Linked DNA regions of Homo sapiens. The protein of the gene in region 3 purifies or fractionates together with the protein of the main gene of each other region. This does not show direct contact. Each region holds a gene or a part of one and is shown on either strand. Other genes may lie near its edges.

The links.
Region 1: the proteins of ESYT1 (region 3) and REEP5 purify together in Homo sapiens (affinity purification with mass spectrometry; 2 studies listed by BioGRID and IntAct, with this or other methods). This does not show direct contact.
Region 2: the proteins of ESYT1 (region 3) and ATL3 purify together in Homo sapiens (affinity purification with mass spectrometry; 3 studies listed by BioGRID and IntAct, with this or other methods). This does not show direct contact.

What each region holds. Positions count from the first base shown.
Region 1 is NC_000005.10:112,912,228-112,919,227, forward strand, and holds part of REEP5 (receptor expression-enhancing protein 5), read right to left. Parts: intron 1-7,000. UniProt on the Homo sapiens protein: Plays an essential role in heart function and development by regulating the organization and function of the sarcoplasmic reticulum in cardiomyocytes.
Region 2 is NC_000011.10:63,626,377-63,633,376, forward strand, and holds part of ATL3 (atlastin-3), read right to left. Parts: intron 6,722-7,000; coding exon 6,650-6,721; intron 6,447-6,649; exon of another isoform or gene 5,818-6,446; intron 5,096-5,817; coding exon 4,664-5,095; intron 3,030-4,663; coding exon 2,943-3,029; 3' UTR 1-2,942. UniProt on the Homo sapiens protein: Atlastin-3 (ATL3) is a membrane-anchored GTPase that mediates the GTP-dependent fusion of endoplasmic reticulum (ER) membranes, maintaining the continuous ER network. It facilitates the formation of three-way junctions where ER tubules intersect.
Region 3 is NC_000012.12:56,138,194-56,145,207, reverse strand, and holds the end of ESYT1 (extended synaptotagmin-1), read right to left. Parts: coding exon 6,936-7,014; intron 6,805-6,935; coding exon 6,709-6,804; intron 6,441-6,708; coding exon 6,369-6,440; intron 6,282-6,368; coding exon 6,195-6,281; intron 2,924-6,194; coding exon 2,783-2,923; intron 2,631-2,782; coding exon 2,476-2,630; intron 2,374-2,475; coding exon 2,275-2,373; intron 2,192-2,274; coding exon 2,060-2,191; exon of another isoform or gene 1,981-2,059; coding exon 1,875-1,980; exon of another isoform or gene 1,683-1,874; intron 1,629-1,682; coding exon 1,579-1,628; intron 1,386-1,578; coding exon 1,346-1,385; 3' UTR 534-1,345; downstream 1-533. UniProt on the Homo sapiens protein: Binds calcium (via the C2 domains) and translocates to sites of contact between the endoplasmic reticulum and the cell membrane in response to increased cytosolic calcium levels.

The DNA of each region.
Region 1 (7,000 bases), on a different chromosome or scaffold from region 3:
ACTCACACCTAAGACACATAGGTACATACTATGTGTTCTGTGCATGGTTCATAAGTAACTCAGTTGCTACAATTCAAACTAGCCAAATGACATAAAATTAAGTAATAGTATGTCTTCACAGCATTGGCTTTATTATTCAAACCAGTTGTACCAATATCAACTATTTACCAGAGACTGACAGTGTGGAAAAAAAAGCAGTTCATTAAAATATATCTATATATCCATTTATACCCATATATATTTTAATTTTATCCATATATATGGATAAAAAGCTTTAAGATGTCCTATTGGTAAAGAACAGAAAGGAATCATCTTCTGGTCCATCTGCTTTATATTTTATTTCTAATGTGGTAACTTATGTTTAATAGCAAATATTCCAGAGGTTAAGATAGGTTCTTTGGAAATTGAATATGAAGAACATGGACCATAATGTTTATAATCCTTTTTGTTATGGCAGACACATAACTTGACCATCCTCCATGCCCACCATGCATGGGATTGCTTTTGGCTGTATTTATCAGAGAGTATGATGTAGGAATTCTTAGTAATTCAAAATGGTTTTCCTATTATCAGTACCTCAAATAAGAAGGAAAAAAGAATCAGACATTTTAAGACATAAACACTAGTTCGTTTCCATGCCAATAAGGAAAATATTTTTCTCCTTCATAGAAAAAAAGAAGGCAGGAAACTATGCGTGATCAGAAAGTTACATATCTTTTTCACTGCAGAGTATATGTGCTTTTAAAGCAAGAGAGAAAACCAACAAACAGTACGAGAAAGACTAATGAAAGACTGACCGGGCACAGTGGCTCATGTCTGTAATCCCAACACTTTGGGAGGCCAAGGCAGATGGATCACCTAAGGTCATGAGTTCAAGACCAGCCTGGCCAACATGGTGAAACCCCATCTCTATTAAAAACACAAAAAATTGGTGGCAGATGCCTGTAATCCCAGCTACTTGGGAGGCTGAGGCAGGAGAATCGCTTGAACCCGGGAGGTGGAGGCTGCAGTGAGCTGATTGCGCCACTGCACTCCAGCCTGGGCAACAAGAGGGAAACTCCATCAAGAAAGAAAGACAGAAAGAAAGAAAGACAGACAGACAGAAAGGAAAAGAAAGAAAAGAAAGAAAGAAAGGAAAGAAAGAAGAAAGAAAGAGAAAGAAAGAGAAAGAAAGAAAAAAAGAAAAGAAAAGAAAAAAGATTACAGAGGCAGTGGAGTGAGAATAGCTAGAGCCTGGGAGGTCAAGGCTGCAGTGAGTCATGATTGCACCACTGCACTGCAGCCTGGGTGACAGAGTATGACCCTGGCTAAAAAAAAAAAAAAAAAAAAAAAAAAATTAAGATGAGTCTATAGAATACCTATAATGAAGTATAAAGAAAAAAATGCAGTCATTCAGTGGTCAAATCTTTTGGTGTTTAATTACAGTGATCTCATTTACCACTATCCACCATTTTGTTTTTAAATGCAAAATGGAAGAGTCAGTCACAGTCAAATATAACAATGCGGAATGTGGACAGACATCCCTACACTTAAGACTGAATTGGTCCCAACACACCTGTGACCTATGTCAATTAACTTCAGTTTGTGGCCTTGATTTCCACATCTGTTACAGGTGGCTATCACCCTAGCAGCTTAGTCTCTAAGACCCCTTTTAGCTAACATTTTATAACTCAAAACTGAATGTGTGTGTGTTTGTGTGTGTGTGTGTGTGCACCCAGGAGTTTGAGACCAGCCTGGGCAACATGGCAAAACCCCATCTCTACAAAAAATACAAAAAATTAGTACACACCTGTAGTCCCAGCTACTCCAGAAGCTGAAGTGGGAGAATCACCTGAGCTTGAGAAAGTCAAGGCTGCAGTGAGCTGTGTTCATGCCATTGCACTCAGCCTGGGTGACAGAGTGAGACCCTGTCTCAAAAAAAACACACTCAAAAAAACCAGGCTGGAGTGCAGTGGCGCAATCTCGGCTCATTGCAACCTGTGCCTCCTGGGTTCAAGCAATTCTCCTTCCTCAGCCTCCCAAGTGTGTGTGTGTTTTTTTGAGACAGGGTCTCACTCTGTCACTCAGGCTGAGTGCAGTGGCATCAACACAGCTCACCACAGCCTTGACTTTCTCAAGCTCAGGTGATTCTCCCACTTCAGCTTCTGGAGTAGCTGGGACTACAGGCGTGTACTAATTTTTTGTATTTTTTGTAGAGATGGGGTTTTGCCATGTTGTCCAGGCTGGTCTCAAACTCAAGCAATCCACCCATCTCAGCCTCCCTGCCTGTCCCCCCAAAAAAACTGTTTGAATGATTGATGGTAAAAAAGATTAATGCCAGGAGCAATAAAAGAGCAGATGCAAATCCCACTGGGACAACCCTTTGTCAATAAAACCAGTGGTTCTATAAGTATCTGTGTCAGATTGGTATCATAAAGTTTAACTTAATCTCAAGTAACCTCACAACTTAGAAGGGGAACAACCTAAGCTGCCTTTTCCTAGGTAAAGGAGGGCCACCTTAGATGCGGACCGCAGTCTAGACAAGTGAGCGATCCCTTAACTAGATCACTTGGTCTATCAGAGGCTGCAGGATATATATAGTAGACACATGACTCAGAGTGACTGATAAGCTCCACTCCCTGGAATCAGGAAAGTGTGCAAGTGACAGAATGAAGTCAGGGTACGTTTCTACAGCCCCCACTTATATTTCAGCTGCTACAAAAAGTAATTTCATTCACAATTTTGAAATTGTTTTAAAACTTCTGCCATATTAATTCATACTTCCCCAAAATTAATTGTTAATGTTATGAATCACCACTAAATACCTTAACATGTTATATTTGTATTTATACTTGTTTTAAATGCCATGTGAAAAAATTAAGTTGAAAACTGAGTCCTCATTCAAAGTCAGTCCTGAAAAAGAGAAGTCCAGGTCAGAAGGAGATGAGGGAGGCTACGACAGAAAGAAGGACAAATAGACTAAATCTCCAGGGCCTTCATAAAGAGAAAAAAAAAAGCTCATAAGGAACATTCCAGAATAGAGTATTAGAAATGAGATCCTCCTCCACAACTGCTTTAGAGCCCAGAAACTCTGATCATGAATAAATAATTTAAATCATTCATCTTATTTGCTTTTTAAAACTTTATTTTCTTTATGACACAGGCAAGCGGGCGAACCTTAACTGAAACGCTGGCTGTCATTATTTTACAAAATAGTCACAAGTTGTTATAAGGATATTTTTATTACTTTTTCATTTCTCCACAACACTTTCATCTTAAAAGAGTCCAGCACTCTTAGCAGTAATGTTAAGTGAAACAAGGACAGTAAAAAAGTTGAGGAAGGTTAAATGTTTAAATGCTTAAGATTTCAGATTTAAATTAAGTAAATTAAAGATTTAAATGTTTAAGTAAATTGCTTAAGTCACAGTTTGCAGAATGCCTGTTATATTTTTTATCCAAGTGCACATCGGCCAGAAGGCCACATTGGCTTGTGCTTCATACTACCCCAGAAGGCAAAGCGCAGGCATGCATTGCTCTGCTCTTCAACACTTTAACAAAGCACATATAGATCCAGAGAGAAAAGCTAGTGTAATGGGAACATAGGCAGCTCAGTAGAAAATACATCTGCTCTGAAGTTCTCATGAGTAAAAAAGAACAAAACATAATTACAATTTAAAAAAAAAAAAAAAAACCCACAAGAAAACAAATACACCCCCTACTAATGAGTCCAAGAAGAGAACTACAAATACACATCCTCCAGTACTGTTAAGGAAACAGCTCTGCTTCCAGTGACTAGCTGCAAAACAGAAAGTGTCTGTTCACAACTGTCATTCACACCACGGTGACTTTCTCAAAGTCTCCTCTGGGTAATAAACCTCTTTAGGAGTCTGTCAATGCACACCTTAAGCAAGTAGACTGCAACTCTTTTTAACTTGTGTTCCCCAGAATGTGTCCTCCCTTTGTGTGCTGAGCATCATTTAGCTAAGAGGATGCTGTTGCTTTTACTTGTGGTTAACTGTGTTACAACTCTTGTAGATATTTTCATTGTTTTTTTTCTTCAAATTAACCTTCTTGCCATCCCTTTCTGATCTGACCTCGATAGGGGTCATCCCCAAACATCTTCCCTTGAGATACTTGTCTCTTGAAACAGAACTAAAGGCAACGCTGCATCCCCTTAGGAAATCCAGTTCAGTGTGCCATTTTCAGGTGGCCTTGTGCTAGTAAAACAGAGCAAGCCTCTGCTGTCATAAGTCAAAGCTACATAACAGATAAGAAAAGTTGTTAGTAACATATTCTAACTAATGTCTACAAAACACAGTCAATGCCTATGTGTGCAGATATATGATTTGGGATGACAGTACCTTATTTGAGAGGAAAAATACACTGCACAAAGGTAATGTATTGACAGGGTCAACTGTTTTTTTGAAAGGCCTACATTTTTTAATTTTCATCTCTACATAAGGTGATGTTGTGTTTGTGGGACATTCAAAGAGCCACAAGGGAGGTAGCATAACGTAATCATTAAAAGCATGAAATTTGGAGCCAGATTCTTTGGATTTAAATACCAGTTTCATCATCTGCTAGTTGTGAGACCTTGATCAAGTTATTCAAATTCTCTTTCTGTGTTTCCTCATCTGTAAAAATGGGAATAATCATAGCACTTACATAATAGGGTTGTTCTGAGGATTAAATGAGCTATATTTGCAAAGCACTTAGACAGAGATATGTACATATCTGTTAAATAAAATGCTACACAGATTTCAGGAGTCATACAAAGAGCTAAATGCAATATAACTCTTTACACCAGCAGCAAAAGTTTAAAATGGGCTTGTGAGGACACACAGAAACTAAAATGACACATTACTGAACTGGGTATGAGATTTCAAAAGTGTTGTTAAAGATTAAATATATAGTGCTGGACTCTCGTCTTGAACTCCTGGCCTCAAGCAATCCCTCTGCCTCAGCACCCCAAAGTGCTGAGATTACAGATGTGGGCCATCATGCCCCGCCCCCTAAACATATTTAATCTTTCTAACATTGGCACTAAAATATGCCTAAATGTGCTTTACATTCCTGTGTAGTTCCAGACCAAGCCTGGCCTCTGTGTGACCTTGGGAAACACACTCCACCTTTCTCTGTCCCTGAATTGTCATTTTAAAACTAAAGGAACTGGACTACCTGTTTGATCTTTAAGGCCCAACTCTGATAGTCCCAGGAAGGTGGCAGCCCAAGTCTTAAGGAAAATATGAAATAAAAAGAGGAAAAGTAATAGACATTTTTATAGAATTTTAAGCAAAAAAGTTACTGGGTAGGACAGAAAGCAAACCTTCCCCTTTCCTTAAATAGAAGATAAAGTCTGAGTTTGCCTCACAATTCCATTTGTACAAAGGAGCAAGTACAGGACTAGGGCCCTGGCTCACTAGCGCCCACCCTGGAGGGACTGCACCAGGAGGACTTACTCACATATGAGGGTGCAGCACAGCATACACCCTCCAGAGGACTCTTATTTGTGCAATCCCATTAGAAGCAGGGCTGCACCAGACATTAAAGGCCATATATTGTATGATTCCGTCTACATGAAATGCTCAGAATAGGCAAACTCATAGAAACAGAATGCAGATTAGTGGTTTCCAGGGGCTGGGTAGGAGGAATAGGGAGTGATTGGTGATGGTTTCCCTTTGGGGTGATAAAAATGTTTTGGAATTAGACAGTGGTGATGGTTACACAACTCTGAACATACTAGCCACTGAACTGCATACTTTAAAAGTGTACAATTTATAAGTATCTAAATTATATCTTAGCAATGGGGGGAGGTCTATCTTTATAATAAACATTTCCAGTAGTCTGCCTCCTGTTATCAGTAAAAGAGGGAAGTAAGGAGATTAAGGTAATTATGTCAACAGTTCTTGATGAAAGGAAGGCTGGAATTAGATTCCGAATTGCCTATATAAGATGGCCAAAAATTCTAGAAACTAGAAGTCAGAGATGAAAGACCCTGTTCTCAAAGAGCTCAAAGGGAAATTATGCACACGGAAAGAACAACCAGTAGGAAGAGGGGTATACAATAAGGTACTGGTTGCTCCCCAGTGAGCACTGGGCAAGTCTTCAACCATCTACATGCTCCAACGTGCAGCAGACCCTGACCAGGAGCCAGGTGCACCTGAGCTTCACTCACAGACTTCCAAAGGGAGTCCAAAGGGAGAAAAGCTAGGAAGCCAAGTGAGCTTTTCCCAATTTCATCTTTGCATCCTGCAGTCTCTTGACCCAATACTGACACTACTCCCCTTCTTGTGATGGCCCAAGGAGAGGAAACAGCAAGAGAAAGGCTGAAAGGTGAGAAAGGAAGGAAGTAAATTACTGGCAATAGTTTGGCAAGATCGCGAACTCCTTACAGAGGTCACAGCAGCCAAAGTGACCTTAAAATATAAATCGTATCATGTCACCCCCTATTTAAAACCCATCCAAGGCAATCAGAAAATGCAAACTCCCTACCACCATCTGGAATGAAATGCACACTTCTACCACTGACCCTACCTGCTGGCACCTGCACCTCTCTGGTGCCTCCCCCACCACTCTTTGCTCACACAGAGCTAAGCTGTGTGCTGCCTCAGGGCCTGACACACTCTTCTCCCTCTCCCTGGCTCTGCTCTTGGCTGGCCCCTTCTCATTCCTCAGGTCTTCTCTACCAGAACTGTTTATTTACTTTAGAGGGCTTACCACACGGTCACTACTTTGCCTATTTCTTGCCTGGGTAGACTGCTCATTCAACAAGGACAGAGAGTATGACTACCTTATTTCTTGCCATATCTAAAGTGCTACCACAGTGCCACACATGTGACTGGCATTTGATTTTTGCTAAATAGATGAACCTGTATTTTAAAAAATAACTCTGGCTAGGGAGCATAAGAGTTACAAGAGGTATGGAGAATAGTTAAAATGAAGGTGACTGCTATGGTCTGAATGTTGTGTTCCCCCAACATCCATATGTTGGGACCTAATACCCAATGTATTAGTATTAAAT
Region 2 (7,000 bases), on a different chromosome or scaffold from region 3:
CTCAAAAAATAAAATAAAATAAAACAAGGCATGACTCTGAAGGTGTTTTATCATACATAGTAGTTTGTCTCATTTTATCTATGAGCCAATCTTACAGAAAGATTTCTCAAAGAATGAAAACTCTGATTCTACCATTTTTACTATAAGCAGCTCATTGAAATTATTTTTTCAAATTATCAACACTTAATTTATCCTGAAATATTTTAATAGAAAATTTTGGAAGCCTCCTTTTATATATTCATAGGAATGAGTTCCATATATTGTTAGGATTGTGTAAAATTAAAAATGCCTGCATGGAAAGCGGCAGAGCAACAGACACGACGCAAACAGGCACAGTCTGAGCATCTGAACCACAAGTAAAAGGTGAGAGAAGTAAAAGATATTATTTTTAACCTGGTTATAAATCTCCCCAGGATGATTTATAGCCAGTAATGATAATGCATCTTTTATTGAAAAAGCTGATATAAAATCATCAATTTACTGTTGAGAGAAAAGAGGCCAAAGAAAACTCTTAAGAACCCTCACTGAGAAAACTTTATAAAACACTTTCCAGAAGCAGAACTAAGAAAAAAAAAAAATGGTGAAGAGGACTTCCTCTGGATAATTAAACCAAGGTCTCTTTATAAGACCAAAACAGAAATGGTGAATTTAAATAGTAACTGAATCTTAAGATTTCATTAAATCATACATTATCACTTTTTTTAAAGTGACCTAATACTTTAGTATGAGTTTTCGACACATCACCCCTTCTTACCATTAAATTTTTTAAGTTATTCTGAAATCTATAAATTTACTTATAGAATGTATTAAAAGCTAAGTATGTCAATATTTACAGAGCCTGCTAATAGGTATGAACTTTCAGAGAGATAAGAGGTCACCTGAAAATGCACCAACATTTCAGAAGCAAGCTTTCAAGTTAACAGTCAAAGCTTGGTTGGCATCACTGATAAATGCAAGTAAACAAGCTGGAATTTTTCTAAAGTGTAACAGCAGTGAATAAAATAGCAAGAACTATTTGCAAGATGGCATATAAATATGAAACAATATGCTGCGAATTTAGGACTTACAAAAATACTTCAGTGGTAAAGTGTCAAAAGAAAATTCTTTGATAAAGAGATTACATGCGAAAAGGGACTTTTTTTCTACCTTCCATTCATACTTCATGTATGTAAAGTTTACACTCAGATCTTACCTTCATGTATATAAAATTTACACTCTTACCTCCCTCCCATAACAAAAGTTAAATTATCTTAGAAATTAAGGCTTATATACCTGAATGTTTATATAAATACTTGCAGGCAAGTTTTAAGTTTTAAAATCCACAATAATTCCAAAAGGAAAAGCAACTAACAGATAAAACTTTTATCTCCTAATCAAGGTAAATAGAAAAAAAGAACTCTTAGATACTTCTAGATATTTTTTATATTTGGGTAGGACTTTGATCCTTGCTAAGGCAAAGCTATCTTAAAGCTACCAGACTAGCCAAAGTAAAATTAAATAGATAATTCACTAAATAAAATGGGTTAATTTTAGCTTCATTATTAAGAACATTAGACACGGCAGAGAATGCAAATTAACATTCTGAATAAAGACCTTAAATCAGGTTATTAATTGCTGCTAAGCCACATGAAATTAGACATCAATTAAACGCAGTAATATTTGTATCTTCCCTCTAATCCTTAATAAAGTTCTGTTCTTATGCAGAACTCTCAAAAACAAAACCCCTCAAATGACAATTACAAGAGTTGTGTAAAACATACATACATATGTAAACCTACAGTGAACCTGACCAAGGCACAAGTTCAAGTGACTTATCAGAGGTCACATGGTTCATTTAAACTTAGCTTTTTTCTTGAAGTATCTAGCGCATTCCTTTTATTATGAGCCACTCTGGCTTTTCAAGGCACGTTTGCCTCTTTTTCTAGAAAGAAGCTATAGGGACCAAAAAAAAAAAAAAAATAGAGCAAGTTGCAACAAAACTGTCAGCCTACTGGGTAAAAACCTCACATTTCAGAGTATGGTATATTTAAATATGACATGATTTTTCCACACTATGTGGCAACAGGATTCCCTATTGTAAATTTTTTTTGAGTGTAATGACATCATTTTCAGTTAGTCTTTAGTTCTGAAGTTTCTCCAAGTTCTGTAAACTTTTAAAAAAGGAATCCTTCTTGGCCGGGCACGGTGGCTCACGCCTGTAATCCCAGCACTTTGGGAGGCCAAGGCGGGCAGGCGGATCACAAGGTCAAGAGACCAAGACCATCCTGGCCAACATGGTGAAACCCCATCTCTACTAAAAATACAAAAAAATTAGCTGGGTATGGTGGCGTACACCTGTAGTCCCAGCTACTTGGGAGGCTGAGGCAGGAGAACTGCTTGAACCCGGCAGGCAGAGGTTGCAGTGAGCCAAGATCACACCACTGCACTCAAGCCTGGTGACAGAGCGAGACTCCAACTCAAAAAAAAAAAAAAAAAAAAAAAGAATCCTTCTCAAAAGAGTAAAGTATAAAAGAAATGTCAAGTTTCACCCGAAAACGGCACCTTTCATGAGGTTATCCTCCATCCCCTCCCCATCGTGTGTGCAAAACCATGGAATCAATCTTAAAAGGCACTAAGTGGCACATAAAGAACTTAAAAGCTGCATTTCCATTTTTCCTCTAGCTTCCTCCTCCATAAAGTGCACAAAGCAGAGTAATATGAAAATAGACACAGGCTTGCATCTATAACAGCAAGGAAAAGAAATGCTTCCAAGAGAAATGGAAGTGTGTTTAATAATTTGAAACCACAGGAGAGGTCTGCTCATTTATTACAGGGCCATGTTTTAGCTCTTCCTGGATCGTCTCAGATCTGCCATTCCTCTGGATATGAACCTGTGGCCGTGGCAGAAACCCAGAAATCAGTAGGGGCTTGTTGTGTTCTTGTTTGATCTTCACGTTAAGATGCTATTGAGCTTTTTTATCCATGGATGGTCTTCCAACAACTGCATCCCTCACAGTGGCCTGAGTGGAATTACCGATATGAGAAGAAGCCTGCAAAAGTCCATTTATTCAACATATAAGTTAATAAAATACAACACAGCAACAAGAAAGTAAGTCCTTAAACTTTCAAAAACCTGTCTCCATCATCGGCATGTTACAGAAAGCAGTTGAATGAAAATGCAGGGATACAGAGAGGCTGTGGCAGCAGCTAACTCCCAAGAGAGCCAGGGGAACATCTGCTCTGTGGCTAGGGTAGGATAGGCAGCTCCTGTGGCTTCACAAGCTGCTAACCCAACTCACCTGTTCATGTTACTCAGAAAAACAAATGTATCATCTCAAAGATCTACAAAACTTGTGACCATGTCAATGTCCAAGAGCTACTGGGTTAGTCAGGTGTGGTGGCACTCGCCTGTAACACCGGCTGCTTGGGAGGCTGAGGTGGGAGGATCACTTGAGCCCAGGAGTTTTAAGTTACAATGAGCTAAGATACCAGCCTGGGTGACAAAGCAAGACCTCGTCTCCAAAAAAAATTTTATAAATAAATAAATAAGCAACCCAATAAATAAATAACCAAGCCACTGGCTTTTGGAAGATTTTTAAATAAAAAAGATACCATCCCTTTCCTAATCCAGTAGGACTCAAAACCGAACATTTTTCGTTAAGTTCATAATTTTTTCAAAGTTCTTGCTTTTCAATGAAGTAAATTAATCTAGAGGGGGTGAGAAGTGAGAATCACATAAAAATTATGTCTGAAGAGCATGTAATTAGAAGTTGCCGACCAGGCGCAATAGCTCATGCCTATAATCCTAGCACTTTGGGAGGCCGAGGTGGGTGGATCACCTGAGGTCAGGAGTTCAAGACCAGCCTAGCTAACATGGCAAAACACTGTCTCTACTAAAAAAAAAAAAAAAAATACAGAAATTAACTGGGCATGGTGTCAGGCACCTATAATCCCAGCTACTCTTGGGAGGCTGAGGCAAGAGAATCACTTGAACCCAGTGGGCAGAGGTTGCAGTGAGCCAAGATCACACCACTTCACTCCAGCCTGGGCAAAAGCGTAAAAATCTGTCTCAAAAAAAAAAAAAAAAAAAAAAGTTGCCAAAGGGGAACACAATCAGTATGTCTAAGTTGGAATGTTTTTGCATTAAAGGGCTATTTTTGGGCTGGGCACGGTGGCTCACACCTGTAATCCCAGCACTTTGGGAGGCCGAGGCAGGCGGACCATGAGGTCAGGAGTTCGAGACCAGCCTGGTCAACATGGTGAAACCCTGTCTCTATTAAAAATACAAAAACTAGCGGGCCGTGGTGGCACACACCTGTAGTCTCAGCTACTTGGGAGGCTGACGCAAGAGAATCACTTGAACCTGGGAGGCGGAGGTTGCAGTGAGCCAAGATCATGCCACTGGACTCCAGCCTGGGCAAGAGAGCACAGCGAGACTTTGTCTCAAAAAAAAAAAAAAAAAGCGGGGCGGGGGCCTTTTTAGACATGGAAACAAAATATTAAGAATAAATATTAATATCCTAAAGGATAATAAAACATACAGTCTATCAGAAAACAACAGCCAACGGAGTGGCCACTGTCTCATGTCTTCACTATGAAATTCTTCCAAACTGAGATATTTTACAACAGAAGCACAAATATCTGCCCATTATCAACCCTCAGGCTCTTCAGCAGCACCACTTACCTGCTCCAACACATATGCGGCACCAAAATCAATAGCTCCGCCCAGCTCACGATATTGACCAGAATACCTGATGTAGCCCCAGGTGAGGAGTGCTATTAACAGTAGTCCAACCATACAGTTGAACAACTGGGCTACAACCTCAAGACCTATGAAGCCAGTGAGGCCTGAGGCTATGTACAAAGCTACAATGCCCGTGAACAGCACTGCAGGGGTTCGGAAGGTGCTGAAGACGTTCTTGCTACCATTGTGCTTGCAGAAGTTCTCATATAATTCCTTGATTTCCTCCTCCAGCTCCTGCTGGTAACGAAAGCTGAAATCCTTCCCACCCATCTTCTTGGTCTTCTTAAAATGGTCCAGAGCAAGTTGTTTGAATTCACAGTGCTTCTCCTCTAGAATGTCTGGAGACAAATAAGGTTTCTCTCCCCCACAAACCTAAAAAGAACAAAGAAACAATATGTTAAAAGATCTCTTCAAAAACAAGTGCCAAATAAAACATGAAAAGATAATGAAAGGATTAGAATGTTTTAAGATGTTAACAATGTATTAATAAGTTAACTTTTAAAAGATGACTAAGACCAATAAAGTCTAGTTTCACTTCCTCTGAAAAGCACACTTAAAAAACCAGGGTGATAATATCAATTGGAAAGAGCAGTGACACTGGGACGGGTGCGGTGGCTCACGCCTGTAATCCCAGCACTTTCGGAGGCCAGGGCGGGCAGATCACTTGAGGTCAGGAGTTTGAAATCAGCCTGGTAAACATGGTGAAACTCCGTCTCTACTAACACAAAAAAAATTAGCCGGGCGTGATGGCAGGCACCTGTAATCCCAGCTACTCAGAAGGCTGAGGCAGGAGAACCGCTTGAACCCGGGAGGCGGAGGTTGCAGTGAGCCGAGATCGCACCACTGCACTCCAGCCTGGGCGACAGAGTGAGACTCCGTCTCTAAAAAACAAAAGCAAACGGTCGACTTCTGCAGGGCCCAGGTGAGAAAGGCCCACCTGTGTCCTGGTTGAGGGTCCTCAGGGTTCTTTGGGACCCGAGGATTCCTGAAATCATGGATCACCCACATACGCTTTGAGACATGCTTTAATTTTTTTTTTCTGGAAGCCCTGCGACTTCCCTAAAAATTAAATGAATTATAGAACAGATCTATGACCAATGGTGGCAGAGTCTACATAGAACTATGCTTCGTGGTGCTCTGGGGAAACCTTCTGACTTGTTGGCTATGCTATTCAGTATGGCTGTATAGCTCACTGTGCTTCTGAATACGTTGGTGGTGTTGTCATGTGTTCTGGACCATCAATGGAGCCTACAATTCAAAATTCAGATACTGTCTTTGCACAAAATCTTAGTCGACATTTTGATAGTATCCAAAGAGGTGACATTGTGATTGCAAAAAGCCCAAGTGATCCAACATCAAATATTTGTAAAAGAGTAACTGGTTTGGAAGGAGACAAAATCCTCACCACTAGTCCATCAGATTTCTTTAAAAGCTACAGTTATGTCCCAGTGGGTCATGTTTGGTTAGAAGGTGATAAATCTACAGAATTCTACAGATTCCAGTTACTATGGACCTATTCCATATGAACTAATAAGAGGACGAATCTTCTTTTAAGATTCGGCCTCTGAGTGATTTTGGATTTTTATGTGCCAGCCTTAATGGCCACAGATTTTCTGATGATTAGTAAGCATTTATTCTTTTGACTTGATTATTGTCTCCTGCTCATGTGAATTTATTACTCCCATTGAAACTATGTACTTACCAATAAACTATTTGCTATTCAAAACAAAACAAAACAAAACAAGAACAAACAAACAAACAAAGAAATGGTAATAATTAGAAGGCCCCCGTTACCAGGACAACCTGAATATAAGTTTATTGCCTCATCACTTAAAGATACATTAAGTAGGATCAAGTTGGGCTTTTGAAGTCAGCAACAATGCCCAGATTATAGATATTTCAGAATAAGGCGTATGTCCCACGTACCTCTTCCATGTTGTTATAATAAATGTCCTTGGCAGAGGCTGCAGCTGCTAAGTTGTTGGCTTCAGCAGTGGCCTTTTAAGAGAGAAAAACGTGAACTGTAAATCCTTCCTCTTTTAACATTCCTCCACAAATAACCTAACAAAAATCTTCTCTATTCCCCATTCTTCCTTTTTTATTAACCTTCTATTTTTCTAGATTTCCATATAGTTCAACTGATGAAATAGAATACACTTTTTCTGCCAAATTTTCTACCAAAAAAAGGTAGAAGTTCATATACATAGAAATATGTATTCTTATACATAAGAATCTTTAGCAAAAATTAAATCTCCAAAATTCAAGGAAAATATTATT
Region 3 (7,014 bases):
TCAATTGGCAGAACAGATGGAGCACAGCTTCTCTAGCTTGCATTCCAGGAAAGTTCTTGCAAGGAGCAGAGTTCAAGGTGTACAGATGATCGAAATGGGTGTATTTCTCAGCTCCTGCTAGATGGGCCTGAAGCCCTTTTGAATGTAGCTGAGCATGCCCTGACAGCACAGAGACACCAGGAGCCTGTGCAGTGGCACAGAGACACCAGGAGCCTGTGCAGTGGCACAGAGCTCCCAGGTTTACCAGGTTTAGGAATCCCTTCCCTGGAAAGCCTATAGTGGTCAGCAGACAAGTTGGATGGGTAACAGAGTTCATCACTGTGACTGGAAATGAGTCTCACCTGAAATGCAACAGCAGCTACTTTACACAGGTCTCTTGACCATCCTCAACATTCTTGGTGGCTGCAACCTTAGTAGGCTTTGACCATTAATTAAACTGACATGATTCACGAATTGGATAAAGGCTTTTGACAGTAGGAATAAACATCAGATGGGTAGATTGATTCCCTATCCTTAAGGAAAAGAACCACAGCTGGTTTGAGTATGATGTTTAATGTAAGATCCAGTGGCTTGGCAGAGTTGGTGCAAAACTGTAAAGTACCAGATTAAGTTCTAGTCAGTGAGTTAGCAGCCTAGGCACTTGGGCAAAAAAATTGGCCCTGCTGTCCCAAGTCCTCCAAAGCCCTCTCCGTATCACCAGCTAGGAGCTCCAAGACTGATATGCCACTACTTGGAGGCTTGAGTAGAATCCACGCGTCCTCAGTTTCCAAAGTGACAAGAGACTGGCCCCAGCCATCAAAGCAGTAGAATTTTCAGGACAGGGTTGAGGACAGTGGGGACAGAACTGGACATGGGGGCCTGAGCTGCTGAACATTTGCTACATGCAGTAGTCTAAGAGGCTCACAGCTGGAGAGGTTAGCCTGTCCACCTTCCCACCCATGTGTGGTAGGGAAGAAGGTGACCATCTAGTTAAAGAAAAAAAGATCCTTCCAAAGCTGTATTTGGCATAAGCTAATACCACTGCTAGTGCTGCCACTGGCCAGGCACAGATACAGAAGGCCCTGAGGAGTTGGGAGGAAGGGAGAACAATGTGCAGGCAAAGCAGGAAACAGCCAGCTCAGGTCCCCGCCCCAGGGGCCCAGAAGGATAAAGGCCGTGCAGTAAAGGGAACATACGGTTCTTCTCTTTGGTCAGGCAAAGGCCCGAATATGGGCCTGTTAGGTGAAAGGGCTGAAGGGCACAGGCTCTGCCCTTGGACCCTAGCTTTAGGCTCATCACATTGAGGCGGTGATGGAGCGAGACGAAGGCAGGAAGACAGAGCAGTCAGGCTGGGACTCGCCAGCTCCTAGGAGCTGCCCTTGTCCTTGTTGTCCATCAGGTCATACCTGTGAAAAGAGGGCTCATGTAGAAAGATGACTCTTGTGTCATCATATTTATAAATGAGACACGATCCAAGGGCTTCTCTACTTGATAGAATCAATGGTTCTCTGCTCAGATTGTATCTTTTTTTCCTTTCCTGTGATTGGAATTTCTCCCACTGAAATATCCAGACCATCCCCCACCCACGCAGACACTCACCACCGGGCTACACCCTGGGAAAGGTCTGTCTCAGCTAGGTCCAGCTGCACCTGTGTTGGAAGATGATAGGGGAAAGATGTTATTTCTTTTATTTTTTGAGACAGGATCTCATTCTGATGATGCTGTTTTGAAATCTCCAAAGACCATGTTCCTTCATCACATACTCGTCCCAAACCATTGCAGAGGTGAGTCACCTCTAAAGGATCACGTGGGGTACTTCCTTCCTCACAGGGACTATAACCTTGGTGCCAGCAGCTTCCAGCCCTCACCTCTGCCCTGCCATCCTGCCCTCTTACCTTCCCCAGCAGCTCACGCTCTCTTGACATGAAGGAGGAATTAGACTTGACAGAGACATCCAGCTTTCGTCTCTGGGCCTCATCCAGGGGGAGTTCCCACTCAAACCTGGGGTAGGACTGGATGTTAGGGGCCAGGAGTCCTTTCCAAGCCTGCCATCTCTCCACCTGAATGCCCACTGACTGACCGTTCATTAAATTCAGGACTCAGGGTCCTCTTCTTCTGTGAGGTCCTCCTCTTGGTGCCTCGGTTCTTGTCTGGCAGTAGCAACAGTGACACATAGGGATCAGGAGGATCACGTCCATTCTGTCGAAGGGACCTACAACAGGAGGATGTAGGTGATATGGTAACCTGAGGGAAGGGATGGAGGCGATCTGGAGGACAGGAGGGATGGGGTCTCACCGGCAACCATGAACAATGCTGACCAGCTTTCGTTCTTCACTGTAGTACCACAGAGTCAGTTTCACCTGGCCCAGAGGCCCGGCTGGAGCCTCAAGGGGACTGTGGAGAAATATCAGTAGGTCTGGGGAAAGCTAGAGCCTAGTGAACCTGTAATACTTTTTATTTCTGACTGCGTCCCACCTTCCTGTCCCAGCCCTTTACCTGTCAACATGTGTTAGGCGCTGCCGGAGCTCTGGGGCTGAGGAGGTGATGTGAGGGGGTCCCCCCGAGAGCTCTGGTTCTTCACTCAGCGATGAGGAGCTGTGGCTGTAGCTGTGGCTATGAGCTTCCACTCCCGAGTGCTGGGACACCAGGATCTAGGGGCAAGAAAGCTGTGAGCTGGGCAGAGTTCTCTCAGTTCCCTCACTCTAAGGACACGGCCCTCTGTTCCCACCCTCCTGGGTGTCCCTCACCTGTGAAGGCCCTCCCCTCCTCCCTCTCATCCTGCCCACCATCTCCTGTCACTCACCCCTAGCTGTGCTCTCAGTAGCACCTGCCCCTGACCACTGCTGAGTGTAAACCAGCGGTCCAAGCAGAGCTGGTCAGCCACGAGGAGCTCTGAGAGGGGCAGGGATAATGAGCCCAGCACGCCAGTGCCCTCACCCCGAACCTGTGGGGCAACAGGACCATGATCAAGAGGCGAATGCATCAACAAATGAGTTAATCCTGGTGTTTTAAAGGTCCAAACGCTTGGACTCATAGGTGGTTTGGTGAGATTTCCCTTTGAGAAAGGCAGGGAAGCCATGGTAACAGTTGCTAGTCCCTCCCTCTGTCCTTCCTTCCTTTTTTTTTTTTTTGAGACAGAGTTTCGCTCTTGTTGCCCAGGCTGGAGTGCATGGCGTGATCTGGTCTCACCGCAACCTCCGCCTCCCAGGTTCAAGCGATTCTCCTGCCTCAACCTCCTGAGTAGCTGGGATTACAGGCACCTGCCACCACGCCCAGCCAATTTTGTATTTTTAGTAGAGCTGGGGTTTCTCCATGTTGGTCAGGCTGGTCTCAAACTCCCAACCTCAGGTGATCCACCCACCTCAGCCTCCCAAATTGCTAGGATTACAGGTGTGAGCCACTGTGTCTGGCCTGTCCTTCCTTTCTTAACCAGAGTAGAGTGGACCATCTTTACCTCATAAACTTTCAGAAATTATTATTATTATTTTTGAGACGGAGTCTCGCTCTGTTGCCCAGGCTGGAGTGCAGTGGCGCAATCTCAGCTCACTGCAAGCTCCGCCTCCTGGGTTCACGCCATTCTCCTGCCTCAGCCTCCCAAGTAGCTGGGACTACAGGTGTCCGCCACCACACCCGGCTAATTTTTTGTATTTTTAATAGAGACAGGGTTTCACCGTGTTAGCCAGGATGGTCTCGATCTCCTGACCTTGTGATCTGCCCGCCTTGGCCTCCCAAAGTGCTGGGATTACAGGCGTGAGCCACCGCGCCCAACCTAGCTTTCAGAAATTATACCAGTAATACCTACAGCATACAGAAAACAACAGTAAAAACAGAACTAAAAGTAAATGTTTCTTGCCCATCCTACTCCTATTGCCATATTCCAAATGTAACAACCTTTAAAACCCTCCTGTTTTCTTTGTTCTCACGGAATTCTAATATGCTTGTATCTATTGATTCCCTGCTATAAAAGATGAAGAACTGAGCTCATTTGTACCTCCTTTCTACTCTGCTAGCATTAAGTTACATTATTTTAAATTCTATTAATTTCAGCCGGGCACAGTGGTTCACACCTGTAAGATGGCTCATGGCCATCTTTTGTCTCCTCACTCTCCACGCTGCCTAAGAGATCTCACCCATGACTACACTTATGAGTGGTTGCTTGCTCATGATGTTCCAATAAGAGGGCAAGGGAGGAACACCTCATGGACAATAGATTTGTTTTCTGCATGTCTTCTCTTGGATGTCCTGCAGAGATCTCAAATTCCAAAATTCCCTCTCTGTGCACTCCCTAAGTCAGCAACGGCACCCTTATCCATCTAGCCACCCTGTGCCAAAAACCCCAGAGTTAGTGTCTAGGCTGTTCCTTGCTCCTCCACCTGCTCCATATCACAGCAATCTTCAAATCCCATCAGGCTTTAGTCGTTTCCTGCTTTGACTGCTCTAACAGTCTCCTCACTGATCTCCCTGCCCCCAGTGTTGTCCCTCTCCAGTCCATTCTTTACCCTCTTATCCCTATGATCTTCCCAAAATGCAAATCTGGATATGTGACCTCTCATTAAAGGCTTCCCTGACTGGGTGTGGTGGCTGACGCCTGTAATTCCAGCACTTTGGGAGGCCGAGGCAGTGGATCACTTGAGGTCAGGACTTAGAGACCAGCCTGACCAACATGGTGAAACCCCGTCTCTCTTAAAAATACAAAAATTAGCTGGGCGTGGTGGCGGGCACCTATAATCCCATCTACTCGGGAGGCTGAGGCAGGAGAATCGATTGAACCCAGGAGGGAGGTTGCAGTGAGCTGAGATCGTATCACTGTACTCCAGCCTGGGCAACAGAGCAAGACTCTGTTTCAAAAAAATAATAAATAAAATAAACAAAGGCTTCCCTAAGCCTTAGGATAAAATCCATATTTCTAGCATACTATTCAACAGCTCCTATGATCTTGCTCTGCCTGCCTCTCTGATCTATAATAAATATGCCTTCTCTCTCCTCCATTTTTTTTCTCAGCCTAAAGAGTTTTCCTGCTCTTCTTTTCGTGGTCCGAAAGAACCAGTAAATCTACCCTTAGGCTGGGGCGCGGTTCTCACGCTTGTAATCCCAGCACTTTGGGATGCCGAGGCGGGCAGAATGCTTGAGTCCAGGAGTTCGAGACCAGCCTGGATGACATGGTAAAACCTCATCTCCACAAAAAAATACAAAAATTAGCTAGGTGTGGTAGTGTGCACCTGTTATCCCAGCTGAGGTAGGAGGATTGCTAGAGCCCAAGAGTTGAGGCTGTAGTGAGCCCTGATTGCACCACGGCACTCCAGCCTGGGCGACAGAGTAAGACCCTGTCTAAAAAAAAAAAGGCCGGGTGCAGTGGCTCACACCTATAATCCCAGCACTTTGGGAGGCTGAGGTGGATGGATAACCTGAGGTCAGGAGTTCAAGACCAGCCTGGCCAACATGGCAAAACCCCGTCTCTACTAAAAATTGGTGGGGTATGGTGGCACGCGCATGTAATCCCAGGTACGCGGGAGGCTGAGGCAGGAGAATCGCTTGAACCTGGAAGGCTGAGGTTGCAGTGAGCTGAGATTGCGCCACTGCACTCTAGCCTGGGCAATAAGAGTGAGACTCTAGTCTCAAAAAAAAAAAAAAAAAATCTACCCTCAAGCTCAGGGGTCATCTAAGGATGCCTTTCTATCTCCAGCCTTTCCCCAGCCTGAACCCTTCCTTTCTTCCCCACAGTGCCTTTTACCTCAGTTATCATTCTGAAAGTTTCATCTGGTTATTTTTCTCCCAAAACAGAGTGTGAGCTCCATAAAGATAAGAAGTCAATCTTTTGGCCGGGTGCGGTGGCTCACACCTGTATTTCCAGCACTTTGGGAGGCCGAGGTGGGCGGATCACCTGAGGTCAGGAGTTCGAGACCAGCCTGGCTAACATGGTGAAACTCCATCTCTACTAAAAAAAATGCAAAAATTAGCCAGGTGTGGTGGCGGGCACCTGTAGTCCCAGCTACTTGGGAGGCTGAGGCAGGAGAATGGTGTGAACCCAGGAGGCGGAGCTTGCAGTGAGCCAAGATAGCACCACTGCACTCCAGCCTGGGCGACAGAGCAAGACTCTGTCTCAAAAAAAAAAAAAAAAGTCAACCTTTTATCTCATCTCTGAATGCTCTGTGCCTGGTTTCCTGCCTGGCCATGGCAGAAATCTGCTAAATATTTGAAGAATGAATTTACAGTACCTGCAACTCTAGGCTCTCAGTGTGTGGTTTCCTGATGAGAAAGGAGGCACTCTCATCCCAGACAGGGGCTGAAGTTTGCGAAATAGTCTGGTGGAGATGAGGGCTTATGATCAGTAGCTGATACTCTTATTTCTCTTATCCCTCCCATTTTTACCCTGCAGCATTTCTTCATACCTTGGTTTTATGAGAACTATCTCCCACAGTGAGAGTAGCATAAGGGCTGAGGTGCTTGGTGCCTTTTCGCAGCTAGAAAGACAATACTGTGTTAGTCTTAAATTTGGACCTAGTTAGGCAGATCCCCCTCACAAATTATATCCACAGCCAGCAGCCATGTCTCCATTATTACTTGGCAGCCACTACCCGTGGCCTTGAACAGACAACTTTTCCCACCCCTGCACTACCCTCAGAAAGAGAGGGGCCATTTTTCTTATTCTAAATACTCCAGGACCATCCAAACCGGAGGAAGGTGGAAGAAGGGCCAGGAAGTTATGGGGCATGGGGAGCGGGATCTCACCGGGAGGTCCTCTGCCCGCTCCATATAGATGGATAGCAGGGCCGCAGCCAGCTCCGCACTCTTCTGAGTCTGGATCAAACTATTCACCTGCAGCACCTGTGGAGGGGCACACGGGGCTGGGGAGTGGTAACTGACACCTTGGGTTCTGGCATGTGCCTTGAACGCTAAGAGAAGAGCTCATCCTGCCCCACCTTGGGTCCCTTCCTTCCTCAAGTCTCCTGCCCTACCTCCTCTAACTCAGCAGCAGTGGGACGGGGGGTGAGACGCTCCAGGCGCAAGTGCAGGCGGCCAGATGGGACATCCTCC